Linked DNA regions of Homo sapiens: region 2 is linked to region 1. The links come from fine-mapping of genetic effects on gene expression. A gene starts in region 1. The other region holds a variant in brackets. All regions are shown on one strand. Distances are between the middles of the regions.

Region 1 (5,385 bases):
GACTCATGAAATCAAAAGACAGCAGTGGATATAAATGTTATTATAATTGGTATTTCAAAACCCAGTCAATCATATTAAGTTTTTACTACAACAAGATTGGCCAGGGAATTGGTTATTCAAGAAAACTAACTTCTAATTAAATCGTTCTAGAACTTGTTGAATATGGGTGATTTTATTCAAAATTTTCCTGCCACAGTTACTCCAGTTTACAAGCTTGGTAATCTAACAATGAAATATATCGCTGTCCATTTAGGCAATAACAAATGAAAGGAAGACATTTTTACATGTTAAGATTTAACACAGCACTTTTCCCTCTAAAAACAAAGATAAGAAAACCAATTACAGAATCAGGGGCAGAGGGTCTTAGGAAGGCAGACACAAAATTCTCCTAAACTAGATCATTACTATTTTAAAGCTCTCTTTAGTAAAAGTCTAACTAAATAAGAATTATTTCATCGTGTGCAACATTAATGCTCCAGATGCAGATTGGTAACTAAGGTTGTCCCTAGTTTTTCTAAAAATCAGATGTATAGATTAATAACACATCTGCACTACTGAATATGTATGAATGCTGTTTCACTTGACTGCACTTACATAAAGAAAATACAAACTCATTTTATGTCGGAATGCAGTCACTAAGTTGGAATCCTTTTGATGTGTATGGCTTTCTTTCAAACACGCGACTTTTTTTTTTTTTTTTTGCTTATTAACACTAATGTGTTTTACTGAGTTTCCCTGAGTGCATGTATTATAAAAATATCATGAATCCCCAAGGATTCATGACCACAATCGGTCACTGTGAGAAACAGCTGGTAATACTGGGTAACATCCCAGGGTAGAGAACTCAAAATCAGACCAGATAATAGAAAGAAAAGCACAGCTTTCACCTCACATTTGGGAACTGACAATTCTCCTTCCATTTCCTCTCTCAGTGTGGCTCTTGGGTGTTTGGTTAGCAGAAGGGGATAGGAAGATAATACGGTTTATTTATAGGCTCCCTTTTCCTTTCGGGGAAAAAAAAAATCACCCTTTCCTACTAAGAGTATGGCAGAGGAGGGATTTTTAGTGTAATGGAAAGGCAATAGACACGATAATCCGGAAGATCAGAAAGATGATCTGTCTCAGCCCTATCACATAGACAGCTGGGCAATTTAAGAATGTGTCTCACCTAAAACATGGGACCCAGGGCAGGAAATGAAGGTAGCACCAGGAAGTGCACTCTCTTACTTTCAGTGAAAACGTTCTTGCCTGTGAGGAGCTAATATTGAGTGACACTCTATTACACCCCTAAATGGCGCTACACGCTGCGGCCACTCTGTTGACTGTTCATGTTAACACTCACACAGGTGTCACAGCAAACAACCATCAATGCTACTTCTAAAGTCGCCCGGTTCCATGAGGAAAAGACCACATGCTTTGTACCACCCAGGCCCAGGCCGTTCATAGGTAGGGGCTTAGCTGACGCCTTTTGAGATACTATGTTTCTCTGCGTCCTGGAAGTTAAGCTAGGGTTGTTTTCCTTTATATACTCCGATTTTTAAAAAAAATTTCTCTGCACTACCTCTTTACCACTGTGGATCTAAACCTTATAATCTAAACCACACCCTCAGCAATCGGAACAGAACGGAAGTTCCCACTCCAGGAAATCTTGAGAAGGTTTGGGAGGGTCAGGAGTGGCACGGGAAAGGAAAAGTCTGGTCAAAATCAAGTCTGTTTAAGTCCGTCGAACCTACTTCCAGGCCATTTGGTTTTCCGTCTCCTGCCCTGCTGGTCTTTCAGGCCACTCGGCCGGCGCCGAGGTGATTTAACACCTGCCGCCGCAGGCCCCGCCTCCGGACTGCGGGTCCGGATCCCTCTCCTAGGAAAGCGCAAAGGCTGCCTTCACAGTCACCACTTTGGAGACGTTGCCTCCGCGCCCTTCCTAACTTTGGAAGCTAAAAATGAGGGGGGGTGGAGGAGAGAGAAGGCCGTGCGGAAAAAGAGCAAGGTTGTCCCCCCTTCCCAGGGCCGCCCCCTGGCCGAGTCGCCGGCAGCCGCCTCCAGCTCCAGCCCGTCCTCCTACAGCCGCGGACCCCGTGCCCAGGGCGCTCCGCGGAGGTGGGATGCGAGCGGCCTCCGGAACCAGCCTCGACCAAGGCAGCGCCCGCGACCGCCGCTCCTTCGCGGGATCGGGCCTGGCTGCCCCGTGAAGGAGCCCATGGGGGCCTCCGCCTCCCCGCGGCCGGCCCCGCCTCCAGCCCGCAGCTCCCCGGCCGCCGTCGGAGCCCTTACCCGCAGAACGTGGTAGCCCTCGGTGCCCCCGCCCGGGATCTCGACGCTTTGCGAGGAGCCCATGGCGGCGGGCGATCGGTGTGGCCGAGCCGGGCTCCGCGCTGCTCCCGCCCCCAGCGCACCGCCTGCTCTAATCCTCCGCGTAGCACTTGGGACGTGGCACTCGCTGCCGCCGGAGAGCCGGGCCGCACAGCCCGCCGGGAGATCGTCTCTGCTGCAGCCCGGGCCGCTGCGACGCCGCAGACAGCGCCACCTGCCGCGAGCCACTGGAAGGGGCCCGAGCGCTCGCGGGCCGGGAGGGCGGAGAGGGAGGGCCGGAGGAGGACTGGGAGGCACCGCGTCGTGCTCGCGAGAGAACAGAAATGCGCTTCCCCCAGCTTTGGCGCCTTGCTACGGGGCCCTGGATTGGACTAGATTTATGCAGACGCGTTCCCGCTCGCCTGAAAGAACACATACTTGGTTGCAGGTCCCCCTGGTGGCCAGAGGCGGGGAAAGGGCTGCTGATGAACAGGAGCGAACTCAACACACACCAAGCTCTCTGTTCTCCGGGTGTGTAGGTATTTTCCCAAACTGTACAGCTGAGGGGAATAGTGGCCTCCTGTGGGCTGCCTAGCATCTGCTCAGCTAAATTTTATAAAAGGAAACGCTCCCTTTATAAAACAGTAGTCTCACAGAGTCACCTACCAACTTCTTTTTTGGTTTGGGTTTGTTTTTTTTTCTTCCTCCCTAATTGTGAGAATAAGATTAGAGGATTGGTCATAATCAGAGCGATGCCAGCGTGGGAAGCACGGTTGGATTTCCCTGGCATTCCACCACCTGCTGCTGCTCGGTTCCCCGTCCTACCTCCTTCAGGTAGCCAGGTCGTATTCATGCTTATTCCGTTGTCGTATTCCGTTGCTGCTTTTGCCCCTTACGTGTACTCCCTCTGAAACCCCTAGTTGCTTTGTGGTCAGTTGGACTGATGTTGCGTCAACCAGGTATTATGTGGATTCCTATGTGATGCAATGTAAAGTACGTGCTATCGCCCATGAAGTATTCTAGCCCAAGGTGGTTAACTTGCCTCTATGGCATCTTGAGTTTGATGTTTACAGGAAGTAAGGGGAATTGAGGAGCAAGTAAAATGACACCACAGGGAACCAGGCAAATACAGGAAGTGGGCCTTCCTTCAGGACAGCTGGCCAGTTCTCTTTGTCGAGTCAGAGTCCTATGAAAGGGCCTATGCCAGATTAAAAGGAACCCGAAGAATATAACCAAGAGACACATTGCAAGGGCTTGAGTTGGGGGCCAACTTGGAGAAATAAGCGTAAAGGACATTTTTGGTTCATTTGGAGAAATTTGAATATGTACTGAGTATTAGAAGAGTAGTTATTCACATGGAAACGTGGAAATTATTGTCTTTTTTAAAAGCTGGTTACAAGACGGGATGTGTCTGTAGACAAAATGAAAAACATGTCCTCAAAATACAGATTAATATGTATGTATGCATATGAAGATGTGGGAGGAGAATATGAACCAAGGGTTACAGTGGTGATCTCTGGGTGGTGACAGAGATATTTTATTTTTTGTTTTGGCTGGTTCCATATTCTATGATGCTCATGAAGTGCTTTTGTAATAAGAAAATATTATTTAAAATTTAAAAATAATTTTCTTTGCTATCGGTAAGTGAATAGCAGATTTTTAGGAGGCCTAATAAATCCATAAATCCATAAATGAAATCTCCAGTTATTAGGCTCCTCAAGGACAGGGTCTGCAGTGGAGTTGGCTCTATGTTCTTGATATTTACCAGAATGCCTAGCAGCTAATTCAACAAATTAATACATTTAATGCAAGAGAATAAATGGAAGAACTAGATCTAATTATAATGTTCTCATTCTGCTTGGCAATTATAACCCTCTTTATGATGGAAGCTGCTGCCATGTTCAGTGGTCAAAATTTTTGGACCAGTTGTCTCCCATATGTCTGATGGCAGCCGCGGCCTATAGAACCCAGGCTGTGGATCGTTGGTGGTCCATGGGCAAGTCCAGCCCTTCCTTAGAGCTGTAGTGTATGTTTCAGCCTCATGAGTGGCTGCTTGTTATTCTCCACACAAGCCATTTACTTTCTTACCTTCTTGATTTTATTCATGCTATTCTCTACTTCTGGAATGCCCTTCCTTACATTTTCCACTTAAAAAATCCTAACTTTGAAAAAATCCTAATCCTTTAAGTCCCATCTCAAATGTTACTTATTTATCCTTAAGGTCAGTGTGACTCTCTCCTTGCCATGAAACAGTTCCTTCATTTCTATGACATCATCGTCATCATCACAGGCCTGTCTTCCACCATTCGTGGTCCATTCATTCAGAGCAAGGATCATATTTTTTTTTTCCTTCCTTCCTTCCTTCCTTCCTTTCTCTCTCTTTTCTTCTTTCTTTCTTTCTCTCTTTCTTTCTCTCTCTCTCTCTCTCTTTCTTTCTTTCTTTCTTTCTTTTCTTTCTCTCTTTCTCTTTCCCTCATTCCCTCGCTCCCTCCCTTCCTTCCTTCTTTTTTTTCCTTTCTTTCTTGTGAAATGGGTCTCACTCTGTCTCCCAGGCTGCAGTGCAGGGGTGTGATCACAGCTCACTGCAGCCTCCACCTCCTGGGCTCAAAATCATCCCTACCTCAGCCTCCCGAGTAGCTAAGACTACAGGCACGCACTACCACACCCAGCTAATTTTTTTGATTTTTTGCAGAGACGACGTCTCATTATGCTGCCAGGCTTGTTTCGAACTCCTGGGCTCACATGATTCTCCCACCTCAGTCTCCCAAAGTGCTGGGATTATAGGTGTGAGCCACCACACCCAGCCGATCATGTTTTTTCATCTTGAGATCCCCAGTTCCTGGTTGAGTATTGGGAACATGGTAGTAGTGTTTATTGATTTGAATTGAATGTGTGTAATGAATAGCTTCAAAGCCTTTTTTTCAGAATCAGTTAGTAAGTGACCTCTGTGGCTACTATTTGTGTCTCATCAAAATCTGTGGGTTTTTTTTCTTTTTTTTCCTAATTCCCAGGGTGATGGTAAAAACCCATGTTATTTCTTTAGCAGCAGTTGGTGGAGGGTGTGAGGGTGAGGTACAGGGCCCACCTGGTTTGGGA
Region 2 (5,385 bases), 200 kb before region 1:
TATTTAGAATTTTACCCATGTTATGTTATGTTATGTTATGTTATGTTATGTTATGTTATGTTATGTTATGTTATTTGGTAACCTATCTATATCCCAGGCTGGAGTGCGGTGGCAGCATTTCACAGCTTACTACCACAGCCTCTACTTCCTGGGCTCAAGTGATCTTCCCACCTCAGCCTGGGACTATAGGTGCGGACTACCATGCCTGGATAATTTTTTAAATTTTTTTGTAGAGATGGGGTCTCTTCAGGTTGCCCAGGCTGGTCTCGAACTCCTGGGCACAAAGGACCTGCCTGCCTTGGCCTTCAAAGTGCTGGGATTACAGATGTGAGACACCACTCCTGGCCCCTTGTTGATTTTCATTCATTGTTTTCAGTTGTGCTTTAATAGGTAGATCGTATTCAACTTGGACTTCTTACAAAAAGTACTTGCAGCCTCCTTTTTGGTCAGGGATCTACTTACCTGCTGTAAAGGGACTTTAAGAAAGAAAAACTGTTCTGTGGCCCTTCTTTCACCCTGTATTATTGGGATAGAAGAATAGGCCAAGAAGGAGTACTGTGGAGCAGTAAATCATCACTGTCCTTTTTAAGGTTCATAACAATTGGTTACCTCTCAGGAGTGGGATTTGGAGACAAGGAGGTATTGGGACTTTTTACTTTTATATTTTTGTATTTATTTCAAGAAGCACCTATTACTTAGTAATGAGGGAAAGGGATGAAACCAAAAAAGAGTCTTGAGTACTTAGGTTAGAGACAAGATACCAGTCTACTTTCTGGTAGTGAGGAGAGGGTAATTACCAGCTCAAGTTTTACCAGATTCCTGTTTTGGAGTTTTCTTAGAGAACATTCCTTCTTACTGCAGGATCAAGTACATGCTCTGTTTTTCTCTGTGTCTCTGACACGGACACGTGCACACACACATACACACACACACACACATACTCTTCCTCTGGACCCTTCTTTTGGGACAGAGATGCTTAGTTGAGTGGATATAAACTATAACAAAAGGCAGTATAACTTAACCTTTCAGTGTCTCAATTTCTTTATTTTTAAAATCAGGACTATATGTTAATACAGAAATGCAGTCTAGTATAAAATACATCTATATGTGAGTATGTGTATATACATTTGTATGTATGTGTATATATATATACATGTACATGTATATACACAATGTGAGAGATTGATTTTAAAAATAGCAGATTGTCACAAGTTTGAGGCTAGAGGAAGAGGAACTTGGTTAGTTGTGTTACTACTATATTAGCATAAAGAAATTAGGCACGGAAGTATATGTAATCCTATTATACTTAGCAGGAACTTCTAACCCCAGGAAGAAAGCTAGAAGGGGGCTTATTACATTATATATGCTAATATTTATTGAGCACTTATATTTTAGCATACATATATGTTCACATTTATTGAATGCTTTCTAAGTGACAGATTTAGTTCAAAACTATTCATAGAAACTTATTTTACTTTAACAACTCTATAAGGTATGTACTTTTATTATCTCCATTTTCTATATAAGGAAGCTAAAATAGAGAGAGATTAAAGAACTTGACCAAACTTTACACAACTTATCGACCTACGTATGTTTTTGATGAAAGAAAAATTAGTTGTCAGATTTTTTTATTAGTAAGAATAAAATTGAAATTTAAATTATTTTCATTTTTTAAGGTCATGGCAGTAGAGAGAAGCAGAAACCCTATGCTTTAGTAACTCTGATGCAAGCCATATCTCCTTATATGAATTATTTGGTCTCAGAGTATTTGAATTCTTTGCTGTAAGGGTTGCAACAAAAGTGTTTAAAAAGACCAATTATATTAAAAAGATTAGGTGAAGCATTACTCTGACTTGGAATGATTCTAGATTAGACCTGTCTTCTCTACCACAGGGTTATATAATTGAACATGTATACCTAGATTCAGGGACCTGACTTTCTATACTTACTGTTGTCAGACATTTGGGTGAAATCTTCGGAAAGTGTGTGTCTGTGTTTATGTGTGTATGTGCAGTACATATATATCTATATATGTAGATAGATGGATAGATAATATGACTCAGAAACAGATAAATAGTTTAGTGAAACTATTTAGTGAATAAAGTACAAAACAGACCGATGTTTATGGAATGTGATAACCAGAGAGGTATTTTAAATTAGTGGGAAAAGTTTGAATTGGTGAGAAATTGGGACATTTTCCTTTGGAAAAAAATTAGATATATATCTATATATAATTCTAAATGGATTAATGTTCTAAATGTTAATATTTGAAATCATTAGAAAAAAATGTAGGAAATGGGTTTATTGAATTCATGTGAGGGAAGGGTTAGAAAAAGAAATTGGGCTGGTTTTGTGATAGCTCATTTAACTAACATGTTCATTTAACTGCCAAAAAATTAGAATATTTGGTTTTAAAGTAGGGAATCAAACTGTGGAATAAATAATGCAACATAGTATAGCCAACAAAAGTTATAGCTAAATATGGTACAAAATATTGTCAATGAAAATAGGTATGTTCTATTTATTAACCATGTTAAAATGGATGTTTCAAGACAAGATTCAGAAGTAATTCCAGTGTTATACAATATAGACTTCTTGAATTTTTTCTTT[CTTTTT/T]TTTTTTTTTTTGAGACGGGAGTCTCACTCTGTTGGCCAGGCTGGAGTGCAGTGACATGATCTCAGCTCACTGCAACCTCCGCCTCCCGGGTTCAAGTGATTCTCGTGCCTCAGCCTCCTGAGTCGCTGGGATCACAGGTGTGCACCACCACGCCTGGCTAATTTTTGTATTTTTTAGTAGAATTGGGGTTTCACCATGTTTACCAGGCTGGTCTTGATCTCCTGACCTCAGGTGATCCACTCACCTCAGCCTCCCAAAGTGCTGGGATTACAGGCGTGAGCCACCGTGCCCAGCCCAGACTTTTGAATTCTTTTGCTTTCGATACTTTTGAGTGCATTAAAAAAAACTAATGAAAAGGAATTATTTAAGTGGAATATTTTATCTTGGAGAAATAATTTCGTTGTCATAGTGTTTATTTTTAATAAAAGGAACCTCTGCCTTATCTAGTATAATATGTAAAGTATTAATAGAAGAAAAGCTTTAACTGTTCTCTATAAATCAGCTTATCAAGTGTAATATGAAAAGTAGCAGTTAAAATCTCGAGTGAATTAAAATATTTTTAGACTTCAGGAAGTTTTAAATTTAAAACTAAGGTCATGGCTCAGCAGCAATTGAATCTACTATTAGAAAGCTCTTAGTGAAAAAACTCTTTTTCACCTTTTTGGTAACTGGTATTAACCTTTTAAAAACCTGCATTCTAGGCATTTGATTTTATTATGACTGTCGTCAAGGAAGATTAAGACTTAAGGCAACTAAAAAATTATATAATGAAAAAATGATTCCTTGTCATAAATACAGGTGATATAACTATCATATAAAGTGATGTTGACTAACCAGAACTAGTAATATGTTCTAATATATCATCCTTGGATCCTTGGGAGCCCATACTTCTACAGTAATCAACATTTATTGAGTTTATGAGAGTGTGTGTTTAAAGACAGGGAGAGAGAGAAAACATGTTTATTAAAATGAAACATGACAAACTAATGGGTCGGATTGTGTTCTTTATGTTCCCTAAAATTTTTCTTCATCATATTGAATGTGATTGATCTCTAATTTGGGTAGTGACATTCCTTGTTATATGTTTTATGTGATGTTTTGGATTTACATTTGTAAATTTTGGGAAACAGGATAGTAAGAAGAGTAGCATAATTAAAAGACAGGTGGTTGTGCTTTGAAATGGGCTATTCTTTAAGAATGGTATGATCTTTATAGTGGCTTTTGTAATTTCTTCCTTTTCAAAATTATAAACATTTATTGTAATAAAGAATTTGATGGATTATAGTGAATTTACTTTTTTTCCAGAAAATTTCCCTCTTGAGGACAGAATTTTTTGTTAAGGGTCAAAAATGACAGTTTGAGTCCATAAAAGATTGAAATCTTTGAAGTGTGTTTTCTAGAACAGGAGTAAGCAAACTTACCTATTTTTACATGGCTAAAAACATCAAAAAAGAATAATTCTTTCAGGTGATGGGTGCACCAAAATCTCAGAAATCACCGCTAAAGAACTTATTCATGTAACCAATCACTACCTGTTCCCCCAAAACCTGTTGAAATAAAAAATAAATAATTCTTTGTGACATGTGAAATTTGAATTTCATTTTCTATTTATAAATAAAGTCTTATTGGAACACAGCTGCTTTTGCTTTATAATGGCAGAGCTGAGGAGTTTTGACAGAAACTGTATATGGCATTCTCATTACTTCAAGCTACTGTTTGGTGTACCACAAATTTCAGTGCTGCCATTATTGCTTGACGGTGTTTTGAGTGCCACATCTGTGACCAGATTGCAATTTTTTATTTTATTTGTTTATTTATTACCACTGTGTATCCATCATGTCAAAAAAAGGAAAGAAGAGAAAAATATAGACGTGCTTTTAAGGCACATTGGAGTGTGGGTTATTTTGTTATTGAATTTAATAGCAAAACATTGCTCTTATTATGAAGTGACACTAGAGCTGCAATAGAGGAATACAGTATACATGAAAGTAACTAGACTAATCATATACTACACTATGTCCAACTCTGAGGAAAGCAATAGAAAAATTACAAAACTTAAAAATGGAATATCTCATCACAGCATAATTTCTTCATAAAAATGAAAATGAGGCTGCCACCAAAATAAGTTTCCAAGTGGCTTATTTGTTTGCCAAGCAAGGAAAGCCATTTACTGATGTTGAGTTAATTAAATTGTATTTTATTGAAGCAGTCAAAAAAATTATGTCCAGAGAAAATAAACTTGTTTTAGGCTATTAGCTTTTTGGCAAGCACAGTTGATTTAAGAGTTGAGGACATTTGAAGCAACATCACTAGTCAATTAAAAAACAAGGCAAATGATTTGGAGTGGTTTTTCTCGGCTCTTGATGAGCCGGCAGATGTTATTGATACAATTCAGTTGTTCTTTATTCAAGGAGTCAATTCCAAGTTTGAAGTGGCAGAAAAGTTGGCCTCTGAATAGCCTGTGCAGAACAACTACAGGCAAGAATATTTTCAAAGCTGAGAAAACACTAAGTACAATCTGAAGTGGAATCTGTAAGGATGTGCTGCAAGCGGTGGTGATAGAATACATACGGAGCAGCAAAAGGCTTAGTTGGAGTAATTTACAAAGCTTGTAAAACTGAGGAGTTCATAGTTTATGGTTATTCATTGTTATTCATTGGCAGATACTTTGCAGAAAATATTTCCATCTATCCATGTGTGTTACTGAATCAGTACTGTCAACTGTGAAGTCAGTTTGCTCTTTTGGACTTAACTAGCATCAGCTGCATT

Evidence for each region. PIP is the estimated chance that this variant, and not a neighbour inherited with it, causes the effect.
Region 2: its variant is fine-mapped to the expression of GORASP2 in whole blood (INTERVAL, PIP 0.96).

What each region holds. Positions count from the first base shown.
Region 1 is chr2:170,926,290-170,931,674 of GRCh38, reverse strand. It overlaps GORASP2 (golgi reassembly stacking protein 2), which reads right to left and starts at 2,422. Exons shown (of 10, transcript NM_015530.5): 1 at 2,272-2,422. The coding sequence starts at 2,334. RefSeq lists a silencer at 1,944-2,643.
Region 2 is chr2:171,124,520-171,129,904 of GRCh38, reverse strand. The region is part of intron 1 of TLK1 (tousled like kinase 1); the gene reads left to right. It overlaps LOC124906092, which reads left to right. Exons shown (of 1, transcript XM_047446755.1): 1 at 1-5,385. Among named protein-coding and RNA genes, the nearest start is that of TLK1, 34 kb to the left of the region's middle. The variant CTTTTT/T (reference allele first, on the strand shown) is at 2,611.